Linked DNA regions of Homo sapiens: region 1 is linked to region 2. The links come from fine-mapping of genetic effects on gene expression. Tissue or cell type: whole blood. Region 2 holds a variant in brackets; the other region holds the start of a gene. All regions are shown on one strand. Distances are between the middles of the regions.

The links. PIP is the estimated chance that this variant, and not a neighbour inherited with it, causes the effect.
Region 1: it holds the start of STN1, and the variant in region 2 is fine-mapped to the expression of STN1 in whole blood (INTERVAL, PIP above 0.99).

What each region holds. Positions count from the first base shown.
Region 1 is chr10:103,916,763-103,919,262 of GRCh38, forward strand. STN1 (STN1 subunit of CST complex) reads right to left here and starts at 1,422. Exons shown (of 10, transcript NM_024928.5): 1 at 1,338-1,422; 2 at 700-894. The coding sequence starts at 832. RefSeq lists enhancers at 884-1,213, 1,073-1,718, 1,349-1,643 and a silencer at 1,384-1,733.
Region 2 is chr10:103,830,898-103,833,747 of GRCh38, forward strand. The region is part of intron 1 of SH3PXD2A (SH3 and PX domains 2A); the gene reads right to left. Among named protein-coding and RNA genes, the nearest start is that of SH3PXD2A, 23 kb to the right of the region's middle. The variant G/GA (reference allele first, on the strand shown) is at 1,473.

The DNA of each region.
Region 1 (2,500 bases), 86 kb after region 2:
GCCTATCTCTAGTAGCCACTATTCTAATACAAAAAAAAAAAAAGAAAATTTAAACTTTACATGTATAATGCCTTGTTGCTTCAACTGCTATTTCTATTTGAGGGCCCACTATATGCCAGGCACTGTTCTAAGCCCTGGGATTACAAAGGTGAACAAGACAGATGATGTTCTTCCTCTCAGGGAGTTTATAATATTTTGATTCTGCTTAATTCAAAAGAAAACAAACCCCCTTTACATATCAGGAATCAAAAGATTCCATTACACAGGGTTAAGCTCCATTTTTACAAAGAAACCCAGACTTTGCAGAAGGTGAGTCACATGCCCGGACCAGGTAAGTGGCACATTTAGGAAAGGAGCCAGGCCTAGGAATATCTGGCCCAGCGATCTCTCCAACAGGAGCAGGGCCAAAGAAAAACAAATGAGCATTTTTAAGCATGAAAGACCCTAAATGGAGGTAAAAACCCCAGTACAAAAGTTACTCCCCCAAACACCTACTAAAAAAAAAAAAAAAAAAAAAAAGATTTAGACTGTTTTTTTTACCTTGCAAATAAATGAACTCATGCGAAGGTCCAGGCTAGGTCCCTTTCAAAGCCTGCAGCAGGGAAGGCTCTCCTAAAAGCCTCTAATCCCAGCTTTCTGAGACTTTGGGAAAGGGTGGCAGATGCAGCCCAGGGCATCCCAGGGTGGCTAGCCACATACCTGGCACCTGGCGGGACTCCTTCATGTCCAGGATATCCCTGATGTAGAGTTTTGCAAAGGCTAGAAACACAGGATCCAAACCCCACAAGAGGGAAGGGGTCTCCTCTTCACACCGGCTGGATCCAGGCTGCATCAAGAGGCAGGGCTGTGGCTTCCAGCTAACTCTGAAAGGTTCTGCATCACTGAGTCAAGCATCTAGATGGGACACAGAAATGAGGATGCAATGCGTTTAACGTGGGTCAAAGTGGCACGGCCCTGACGCTGCTCCCAGGTGGGCGTCCAGGACTCCAGGAGGGGTGAACGCAGGGATCCAGGGCCCTGTCAAACTCCATGCCACGGGGCGTGTTAAGAGGCGTTCCTCACGTCAGGACGCCTGCGTTCCTTACGGCTCTCCCGCTGTTCTCCTTCCCACAAAGCACCAACTTCGGAACGGCTAAACATCAACTTTCACTCTGGGAAGATACGTCTGTACAGGCGTAGCAGAAACCGCTTGGGGTCCCGGGAGGAACGGGCGCCCTCGCAGCCCTGCACGTGTTGGGGCATAGTGGATGGGTCTGACTGTCGCTCTGCCCTAAACTTTCCGCTTTTGGGGATGAGCCAAGAAAAGGAGGAAAAAAGATACTAAAAAATGGACCCACTTGTAGCCCCTCCCGCCGCCTGCAGCTCCAGGAGCCCTGAGACCTGGCCCTTCCGGCGCTCGGAGCCGCTGGCGGCGACGACCCCGCCCGGCGCAGGAGCAGTTGGCTGAGGTCGTCTCTGGAGTTCCGGCCTGAGCCCGCCCCCTGCCCCGCCAGGGACCAACCCCGGTCTCCCCGCCAGCGCATTTCCTTTCTGCTGCAGCGCCTCGCCACGGCTCCGCCCCATCTCTCCCGAAGTCCCGCCTCATCCCACCCAGACCCCACCCATCCCGCCGCGGCCACGCCCCATCCTGCCCGAAGCCCCGCCCCATCCCGCCCGAAGCCCCGCCCCATCCCGCCGCGGCCCAACCATCCGCTAGGCCCCATCCAGCCGAAGTCCAGCCCGTTCCGTGCCCCGCCTCAGCGCAGCGTACTTTTGGTTCAGGCAGCGCTGCAGCCCCGCCTTCGTGCTAGCCTCCACCGCTGAGGCCTAGGAGGCGACCTTGAAATTCCTGCAGTTCTAACGCCGCTCTTCTAGTCACCTTTCACCCCTCCTCCTGCTGGTGGCGGGACCCTGAACCTGGGCCTCCTAGAGGTTGGGTCAGGATCAGACTATTTTTCTTTTTGATTCCTGATATGTAAAACAGATAAAAAGTAAGCAGTGCCACGAGTGCATTGTGGCATATTTTAAATGTTCATTTACAGTTGGTAAGTGACCTGACTCACACACTTAGGACTCTAGTTTCACTTGGAGATGTCAATATCTAAATTTGAGCCCTCGAGTGAATGTGAGGTCTTGACTCTGCCAGAGACTAGCCGTGCAAAATCATGACAATACATTTTGTCTCCTTTACCCTTGTTCGGTCTACAGTCTGGAAGGTTGTACACTTAAGAACTTTGAAAAGCTGGCATTTTGGTAAATCATGGCCACCTTGATGGTGCTTAGTCTCCAGAATTTCTATTTTAAAGTGAGGAAAGATAGCCACGTTCCACTCCCATAAAGAGCTACGTTACCCGAGACGTCAGGAATTCTTCCTAATTTACAGAGACTCTGGAAAATGGCAGGGGAGTACAGATCACCCTGGCAGACCATTCCCGGGGGAGGCAGGTGGTGGCCAAAGAGATAATTGCTAAACTATTTATCAGAGAAGGAACTTGGAGCCGCTGGAATGGAAAGTGTGTGT
Region 2 (2,850 bases):
AAGTCAGGATGAGGGTTTGCAATGGTGAGAATACGCAATAAATTGAAAAATAGGATGAATTTCCCCAGTTGGTCAGAAGAACCAACACATGATCTACATTTTTAGGTGGGAACAGTCATAATACAAGACAGGTGCGAAGCATCCTTCCAGTCTGTGTTTGCATGCTTTTACTACAAACATATGTAACCATACATTACACACTATTGTTTTGTGAATAATTTTTAATTTACATAAATGGATCGATATTTCCATAAATAATATTTACATAAATGGTATCAGAGATAATATTCTACTTCTTGTTTTTTCATTCAATACTGTTTTGGAGATCTTTTCATGTTGACACTTACAGATCTTATTCATATTAACTGTACAGAATTCCATCAGTGAATATCCTATACCTTATTTATCCAACCATTGGCATTTGTACTGTTCCAAGTGGTAGCCATTAGGGCTGTTCACTGAATATACCAATTCTTTTCCTTCCCAGGCACATGGTAGAATTGTGCTTCCTCAACAACCTGAAGGTATGTGTGGCCAGGTGACCTCTTTGGCCAAGGGATGTGTTATTTTTGGACAGAAGCATTTTTTTTAAATTGAGGCATAACTCATATACTATTAAGGTCACCATTTTAACGTGTACAATTTGGCTGGGCAGGGTGGCTCAATAATCCCAGCATTTTGGAAGGCCAGTGTGGGAGGATTGCTTGAGCCCAGGAATTCAAGACCAGCCTGGGCAACATCATAAGACTCAGTCTCTACAAAAATAAATTTAATTAATTAACTAATTAAAGTGTGCAATTCAGTGTTTTTTTAGTATATTCACAGAATTATGCAACTAATACATCACCACTATCTAATTCCAGAACATTTTCAACACCCCAAAAAGAAACCTCATGGCAGTTAGTAGTTATTCTCCATTCCTCAATACTTCCAGCTCCCGGAAACAACTAACCAACTTTCTGTTTCTATGCATTTAACTGTTCTGGGCATTTCATATGAATATAATCATACAACCTGTGGCCTTTTGTGTCTGACTTCTTTCACTTAGCATAATGTTTTCAAAGTTCATCCAGGTTGCAGGATGAATCAGCACTTCATTCCATTTTTATGGCAGAATTATATTTCATGGACAGAAGCATTTAATTGCCACTGCCGGACACTGCTACACTCTCTCCCCATGCCCCAGGGACCATGGAAGCACTCTAGGCCTTTGCAAGTCTCAGTTTTCAAGTGCCTACAACGAGCAGCAGCCCCTAATGACTCCAATGGACAGGCAGTATGAGCAAGAAATAGAATTTGGGGGCTGTTTGTTCCTGTAACTTAACCTATCCCATTCTGACTGATAAACCAATTTGTCTGTCTTACAAATACATAGCAATAAAAATCATTGCACGTGTCTTCTCATGTGCACTTGGGAGATAGTCTCTACACCCTAGAATCTAAGGTATACACTTAGAAGTAGAACCTAAAAA[G/GA]AAAAAAAAAAAAAAGAAAAGAAAACAAGGTTCAACCAGCTGATCTGGAGGAAATAATAAATTTCTATCTACTCTCTAAATAATATCTAAAATACTACACACTATTCACAATAGCAAAGACTTGGAACCAACCCAAATGTCCATCAATGATAGACTGGATTAAGAAGATGTGGCACGTATACACCATGGAATACTATGCAGCCATAAAAAAGGATGAGTTCATGTCCTTTGTAGGGACATGGATGAAGCTAGAAACCATCATTCTCAGCAAACTATCGCAAGGACAAAAAACCAAACATCGCATGTTCTTACTCATAGGTGGGAATTGAACAATGAGAACACTTGGACACAGGAAGGGGAACATCACACACACACTGGGGCAGGGTGGGGGAGGGAAAGCATTAGGAGATATACCTAATGTAAATGACGAGTTAATGGGTGCAGCACACCAACATGGTACATGTATACATGTGTAACAAACCTGCACATTGTGCACATGTACCCTAGAACTTCAAGTATAATAAAAAGAAAAAAAAATAGAAGTAGAACCACCAGGTCACATGATAAGCACACCTTCAAATTACTAGATATTGCCACATTGTTTTCCAAAGTGGTTACACCACTTAAAATTCTACGTAAGTGTTCCCACTTCCCCATATTCTCACCAACACTTAGCATTATTAGGCTTTTCATCCTGTACTTTCTAACAGAGAATCACAAACTCTCTTGAACAAAATTGCTAACTATGGCACTCAAGGGTATAGAATATTCTAAATATCTGGTGGTTAACCAGGAAGCCCTTTATGTTACGTCTTTTCCATCTAAGCATTATTTTAGCCTGCTGCCCAGCCATAAGTGGGAAAAAATGCAAAATAATACAATGTCCATGAAGTGATTCCATAGGTATGAGGGATCCACAATGGTCTTCACTGTAAACATCACTTCTCATTTGATGGATTTAGATACAGATGGTATAGGACAACAGATTAAATGTGAACTGACCCATCTGACATAAATCCTAACCTGTCTTATTTATTAATGTCACTTCAATAATTTATCCTACAAAAATAGTAGCTCAAGTTCCCAAAGACATATATATATATATTTATATCTATATATTTATATTTATATATGGATGTTTAGAGCAGCATTGTTTGAAGTGGCGAAAAAGTTAGAGACAGTCTAAATGTTCATTAACAGAGGAATCTTTTTTTAAAAGTTATAATTCCTTATTATCTACCCGAACTTTCTTGAAAGTGAGATGATAAATTTCCACATGGCTTGAGATTGTTTCAGCTGGGATTTTGTTGCTTGCAACTGAACGCCTCCTAACGATTCACTGGTTTTGCACTGGATCTCCTTTGCTAGAGGAAAAGAA